Homo sapiens: one gene and its partner. The protein of the gene in region 1 purifies or fractionates together with the protein of each later gene. This does not show direct contact. Each region holds a gene or a part of one and is shown on either strand. Other genes may lie near its edges.

Region 1 (3,821 bases):
AAAGCAAAGTTAGATTACATCAAGTATATCATCTATGAGAAAGATCAAAACCACAACCATCACAAACTGAAGACAGACCTTCCTATACCAAGACTGCCCCTCACGTCCACTATCCCATCCTTTCTCATATTCTTCATTTTTCACAAACCACTCTGTTTGGATAAGCTTCTAATGTATGTCTTAATTGCCGTTCTTTAAAACACACACACACACACACACACACACACACACACACACACACACACAGAGAGAGAGAGAGAGAGAGGATAAAACACATAAAAACACTGCACTGACTTAGGATACTTTCGGCTATGATGTCAACACTGCCCCTTAGCCATCACTTGGACTCCATTCATGCTTCTGGATACTGTTGATTTTTAGTGCACTGAAATTCCAGCCACCTTTATTGCAAAGATGGTACTCCGTGCTTAGTGTCTGAGTATCAGTTGAAAATATTCAGAAAAAAATACATATAAAATATTTTGGGTTGAGTGGCAAGTTATCATTGGTGTTAAAGGTCAGAATCAAGAATCTAATGTTCTTGTTAAATTCTTCTTGTCTGTATCCCCAAAGGACATGTAATTGTCATAAGTCCCCAGTTGAAGGAGGAAAAGAAAATCTCATTTTTCATTATTGTTCCTACTGGAATGTTAAAATCATAACAAACATTGTAACGATATGAAAGATATAAAATTCCATCATATTATGAAGGCAGAGCCAGCCAAAATTAGTTTTACTAAATGAAGATCTGAATAAACTTACATGTCTGGGAAGGTAGACTCAGCAAGCTTCCAAACTTCATATACTCAGAGGTACTTCTTACCATTCAAACATATCTAAGAAAATTAGTCAAAAATTTTGTAATGGTATTTTTAAAAAATTGTGTTTACTCTTGGTGAATGAACTTCATAGATAAAAAGAAACTCTAGAAAAATCTTCCTTTTAAAAGTTTACATTCACATTTGTGTCCCTTCTTTTCATAAAGGAGTCACTATTACTTAATAGCATAGACAGAGGCCCAAGAGTCATTTCCTAAATAATTGCTTGAGTTCCAAAATTAGAGGGGATTTCTTATATTTTAATATTTTTGTTCAAACTTTCCTATGTAAAACTTAAGAACCTTAAATTTGGAAACTTTGCATACACTGAATATTTATGAAGTATTAGAATCATCTCAGGATCAAACGATATTTAAGCTGCACTTCTTTACTCAATGTTGCTGTTTTATTTTGTGTGTCTGATTTCTTAGTAGGACTGTTTCTAATGTAACTGAAGATTCTGGAGGATTGAGAGTGGTTGGCAATACCTTCACCAATTTAAGCAAATATTTTCTCCTCCCTCCCTCCTTTCTTCCTCCTTCCTTCCTCCTTCCCTCCCTGCCTTTCCTCCTTTCTTCTTCTCTTCTCTTTTTCCTTCCCTCCTTCCTTCCTTCTTCCCTCCTTCCTTTCCTTTCCTGCCTTCCCCTTTCCTTTCCCTTCCTCTCCTTTGCTTTTTACTTTTTCTCCTTCCTTCCTTCCTCCCTCCCTTCCTCCCATCTTTCTTTGCTTGTCTTGCTTTGCTTGTCTTGCTTTGCTTTTTCTTTTTTCTTTTCTTTCTTTCTCTTCCTTCCTTTTTTCGTTTTTCTTTCTTCTTTCTTTCTCTTTTTCTCTTTTTCCCTCTTTCCCTCCCTCCCTCTCTTTCTTTTCTTTCTTTCTCTCTCTCTCTCTCTCTTTCTTTCTTTCTTTCTTCCTTCCTTCCTTCCTTCCTTCCTTCCTTCCTTCCTTCCTTCCTTTCCTTTCCTTTCTTTTTCTTTCTTTCTTTCGTAACAGAACATTTATTATTGTTTTTTGTTTCATTTTCTCCAATATATTAAGCAGATAAAAGCAGGAATGGTTTTGATGAAGTGGACAAGAGTCTCAAGTGCTGACCACTAGGACTGAATTGCACGTCAAAATGAATCTGAGTCATAGTCATGGAATTCTTGTTTACATTTTAAGCCACTGATAAGATTTACCTAAAGTAAATATAAAGTGATTGAAGATAAGTGTTCTATGCAGTATTTTTTCTTTCCTTTGGGGAAAACAAAATTTAACACAAAAGTTAGAATGCTTTCATGCTACTTGAGTTTGTTTTAAAAGGCAGCATTTCACCGGACTAAAATGAAGATTTGAAATTTTCCCTATTAGTAATATTCTCACATGTATGATCTTGTATATCCTGGCTCCTTTTGTCTTCATGGTTTTTGGTCTGCTTTCTTTTACAGCATAGGTGGAGAAGTAGGGCGAGGCCACGAAGGAAGTTACGTGGGCAAACATTTCCGCATGGGATTCATGACAATGCCTGCTCCTCAGGACAGACTTCCCCATCCTTGCTCCAGTGGCTTTTCTGTGAGATCACAGTCCCTGCACTCGGTTGGGGGCACAGACGATGACAGCAGCTGTGGCTCACGGAGACAACCACCACCCAAACCCAAGAGGGACCCCAGCACCAAGCTGAGCACCTCATCAGAGACAGTCAGCAGCACTGCAGCCAGTAAGAGCGGGAAAACCCCTGAGAGGACTGAAGGTAAAACACGCCATGTCCATGTCACCTAGAAATCTCTTTCAGATAGTATGTTCAGGTCAGCATGCCCAGGGGCAAGTGCCTTCTTCACTGGGCCACATAATCCTGCCTCTCACCCTGAAGTCCCAGAAAAGAAGAATTGAGGGGAAGGTTATTTATTGATGTGTTGTCAAATTTCCAGAAGAATGTATTTCTGATAGTTCAGAAAGGGTAGGCAATATATGAGTTTTTTAATCCTTTAAAGCTTCAAATTATTCAAAAATTATTCTGCCCAGAAATATATCTAAAAGTTATATTTTCTTATACTATTTATACAATTAAAGGTATTATTATTTGATTATCAAGGGGACATTTTAATTCAGGAAAATATCAAGAAAAAGCTTATAATCATTTTTAATGTTTTGGTGAATTTCCTTCCAATGAATATGAATTTATGTATTTATGTGTGTATGTGTGTGCATACTATAATCTTAAACTCTCCTTAATATCTCCAATTTTTACCTTTATCTGCCTGTGTTTTTTCTCAGCTATGAAACATACAAGTCAAATATATCCCAGCCTCCTTGCTGGTCTATGAATATAAATTAGGTCATATTAACACTAGATCTCACCAGCTCTTTAGGCCTTACTGAATTTAGTAGAGTCTCAGCTTCCCTGAGTTACTCCTGAGAATTCCATGGTGGGAAAGTAGCCTTAAGTGTGCCTTGACACAAGCTATCTTGGTCATTTGGGGCTGCTATAACAAAACACCATAGCCTGGGTGGCATATAAGCAACAGCAATTTATTTCTCACAGTTCTGGAGGCTGGAAGCCTGAGAGCTCTGTTGGGGCCCACTTCCTGGTTGCAGACTGCCGACTTCTCCTTGTATCCTCAAAGGGCAGAAAGGCCTCCCTGGCCTCTTCGTAGGAGGATGCTAATCCTATTCCTGAAAGCACTGCTCTCCTTCCCTTTCTACCTCCACATACAATCATTATGGGATTAAGTTTTCAACATTCTAATTTGGGGAGCACAAACATTCAGCTCATTGCACAGGCACATTGAGATCTTTACATAGCAAATGTGGAAAACACTTCAAGGTTCCCAATGCTGCCAGTGACCAGTTTGAGAGAGGCGTTCCACCAGGTCCCATAGCTTCTCTTCTGCCCCACTCTCCTTTCTCCACAGCAAGCTTCTCTGAGCTCTAGGGTACCAAGTATATTTGCCGCAGAGAGCCACATGGTCCTTTCTTCAACTAGGCAGTGTTCATTGTGACATGGGCTCCCTAGTCCCTCATGAAAGC
Region 2 (3,821 bases), on another chromosome or scaffold:
TATGTCGATAACTTGTGTCTCTCCCGGGTTCCTTTCAGCCTTTAGAATTTATTTACTCTGGTAGCTACTACTGGCCTAATTTAGTAGTACCTAATGTTCTGGTGTCCTTATCTACTCATAGTTGTCCCCTTAAAACAGGAAGGAGAAAGCCAGGAGCGAAGATGGTGTTTATGTCATTTCTTTCTAGAGAAATTACAAACCCATAGCAACCATTCTCTACTTAAACCTCACATCAGTTCTATAAATAGGTGTGATGAGTACCATCAGTCTATTTGCCAGAGTAACAAAGCCACTTACCTTGGTTCAACCAAGAGAATGTGACAAGCCATGATTTAGGTTACAAGTTGGCAGAAAGACTTGAATATTTTATCTGCCATTTCTTTCTTTCTAGCAGGCTGGTTGTCATATGTGACTTGAGGATACTGGACATTTCCTTTGATATCTTTGATGCTGTCTCAAGGTGTTATTTTGATATTTGAAACCCTTGCAATGTTGTTCATGTAAGATTTGTTTATCACTTTACAAGTGCATAAAGTTCCTTACTTCCTTGAAATGAAGTCTTCCCTCTAGGGAGCCAGCTACTCCTGAGTTTGTTCTCAGGAGCAGCTCTGGGTGTGCAGTTGACTGGCTCCATTTCATCACATCATCATCTTGGCTTTGATTTTTTGATGACAATTTTTTTGGCAACCCTGTTCCAGAAAGCACCATTAAAAGGACTTCCAGATCTAGTCATGCTGGCCACGCAGTATGCACACAAGACAGGATTGTAAATCTTTGAGAAATCCTTGGGCTGTTAGTGCTCATCCTTTGGTTTCCCTTAATTTTTCAACCTTAAAGTTGTTTAGCTGTGACACTGATAAGATATTACCTCCCTCCTTCCTTTGCAGAACTGGAGAACCAGGAGTCTCGGGTCTCTGAAATCCACAGCCTTGTTCATCGGCTCCCAGAGAAAAATCGGCAGATGTTACAGCTGCTCATGAACCACTTGGCAAAGTAGGTTTAAGACCAATTACTAGCCTTTTTCTTACCCCTGAAAGTTCTTATCTTAGCAGTGAAGCTGGTCTCAGTTCTGCTTTTGTTTCTCTCTCCCACTATTGCATCAGGTATGCTGGAGGCTTAGGAAAGAAATGTGTGAAATGTTCATTGCAGTGGAGAACAGCAGCAAATGCCAGATGGCCTTCCCAGAGGATGCTGGGGAAGTGCTCATGCAACCAGGCCACCAAGCAGAGTTTTCAGGGGGATTTTACCTATGGTGATCAAGGGCAAATTGGAGTGTGTTGTCCATGATACCAGGTCACCACACAGAATTTTGTGGGATTATATGTTCTTATGCTCATCAAGAACAAACAAAAATATGTTGTGGGTTTACAGAATTTGGGTTTTTAGTAAAGAGGACTGGATTCTAGAGCTGACTCTGTTATTAACCTGCTGCTTAACCAGCCCTGAACAAACTGCTGAACTTTCTATTCCTTAGTTTCCCCATCTGTCTAATATGGATAATAGACTCCCCTTTTTCTACAAGGATCATTGATTTTTGAAGTTACATGCATTAAAGCCTTTGAAGAAGTATAAAGAATAAAGGAATTATTTTTGGCAAATACTCACTTGTCCTCTGAGATAATCAAAGCATTCAGTAGGGACCTGATTTTCTTGGAATGGTTTTGAATATTTGTGTATTTACTGTTCCTTGACCCTTTCACAAATGGCATTGCTGACTTCCCGTGCTGCATTCATCACTACTTGTGTGTGTGTTCTAACCTTCCGTTGACTTTGATGGTATGTTCTTGATTGCAGACTGGAGCACAAGAAAAGAATGAGAGCATAACAGTTAACCTAAATTATTAAACCCTACATTCTATTGAACTGATGTGTTATAAATTTGGCCCTTATAGTCCATACTTTGCTATGCCATTAGGGTATTTCTTGGGGATAAGTTGATATTCTTCTGAGGGAGATTGTAATGGTTAGTTTTCATCTTTCTGTCAAGCACTTGATATTGCCTTTGGGAAAAAGAGTGATATATATCATGAAGATTTCCACCATTTCCTCATTTCCATCAAGAAGCCAAGAGTGTCTTGTGTGTTATTGGGAAGGAATTCGGCAAAGCCACAGTTGCTCCATTATTGACCAACTTTTTTTCTTGGCTTTCCATATCAGAGCTGCTTGTTCAGGAGTACTTAGGAAGAATAGCAGATAACATGCAAGTTTACAGGAGAATGCCCTAAAGGTGTCAAAGAATCCCGATGAAGCATGTTTAAAATAATGGGAACTGGGCTTTAAAAAGTAACTCCAGATGCTCTGAGATGACAGTTGAGTACCAGTTCCACACAACCTAGAGTCAGGCGTTTGTTAAGCAGAGAAGCTGGTTTAGATCTTAGTTGCAAAACTTTGCACACTTGAAGGACAAACACCAAGACATAGAAGGTTCCAGGTGCACCCTCCAGCCTAGCATGTGTGGGGATGCTCATGACTGCTTCATGGCCATCGGGTCTGAAAGAGGCCTTCAGGCCTGCAGAGAGCAGCTGGAGAAGGGTTAGGAACCATCTGAAAGCCATGGGCCTTTTCAAGCTGTGCAGTTGGAAGGAGAGCTTAACTGAACTGAGAGAGACCAAAAGTGAAGGGTGACCCAGCAGAGCCAGTGTTGCGTTTTTCCTACTTTTAAATTTCCTTTAGGATTGTTAGGATTCTTTAAAGAAGAAGAAAAAAGGATTTAAAAAACAAAACCAAACCCTTAAGGTAGATCTTGAACAGTTGAACTTGTTCATCTCCTGGTTGGATGACTCACTTTCTCCTCCTTTTCCCACCCTTTCCCCCTCCAGTCCCATTACATTCAGTCCATCCTTGTTACTAACCTAAGAGTTGTAAACTGGAATTTGCAAATCACAGTTGTGACCTTGACACATTTTTGTTTTTTTGGCCTTCTAACCAATTTAAGGCAATTTTATTTTTGGAGTTGTTTACTTCATAGCATTTCTTGATCATTGTCTTATCTGTGAAACTTGAGAATGATTTTCTGTGGTTTTATGGCATGTTTTGATCATTTAATTATCAAGAAATCTACCTGTAGACAAGCTCTCATGCTGTAATGTGAGTTGGTTAGAGCTAGTATTAGACTATAGCGGACTCAAATTCTTAGCGTGCTGTGTTCTTGTCTCTCGAGCCTCTATATTTAAAATGTCCCTGTGGAGAAGGATATGAATGAGCAGTGTTGAATCCAGTAAAGAGTATTTATTTAGGTCTGAAAAAATTCTTTGGCATCCAGAGGAGTTCTAAGATTCCACTTAAACTTTATATTCTCATTTACAGCACTGTCCTTATTTTAAAATCAAGCAGTAAGGGAAAGTTAACTTGGGACAAGAGGTTTGTCTGATTCCAGTTTTCTCAGGTTTAGACTTACCCTAGGCTATGCCTGAGCTATTGTTCCTCTGGGCTACTTACTTAATGGTCAGCTTCCTTCCTAAGTTTTGGTTTCAGGGCTGATTCTGCTGGAAAACTGGTGTTTACTTCTCTTATTACTTACTGTTTGCCTTGTGCATCTCAGAATTCTGGTTCAAAGGCAAGCATTTTGTATTGTATATTTTTTAAAGTACTCTTTTGAAACATTTTCCAAAACTGATTTCCCTTAGCCACAGAGGGAGATTTAAGGCATTTTATATTTAATCCCAGCTAAAAATTCATTCAGAGGGGAAAAAAAGTATTGGGTGGGGGGAAGGATAAAAACTCCAAACCTCTAAAGCAAATGATTACCAGGGTACATCCAAATCACAGAGATGTTGGATTTGTTTCAGACCTCAGAGGGAACATAAAAATTATAGGCAACC

Evidence for each region.
Region 2: the proteins of NYAP2 (region 1) and ARHGAP26 purify together in Homo sapiens (affinity purification with western blotting, with the first as the bait; one study listed by BioGRID). This does not show direct contact.

Annotation. Positions count from the first base shown.
Region 1 is NC_000002.12:225,511,129-225,514,949, forward strand, and holds part of NYAP2 (neuronal tyrosine-phosphorylated phosphoinositide-3-kinase adapter 2), read left to right. Parts: intron 1-2,242; coding exon 2,243-2,544; intron 2,545-3,821.
Region 2 is NC_000005.10:143,056,755-143,060,575, forward strand, and holds part of ARHGAP26 (rho GTPase-activating protein 26), read left to right. Parts: intron 1-297; exon of another isoform or gene 298-887; coding exon 888-993; exon of another isoform or gene 994-995; intron 996-1,067; coding exon of another isoform or gene 1,068-1,287; exon of another isoform or gene 1,288-1,600; intron 1,601-3,821. UniProt on the Homo sapiens protein: GTPase-activating protein for RHOA and CDC42. Facilitates mitochondrial quality control by promoting Parkin-mediated recruitment of autophagosomes to damaged mitochondria.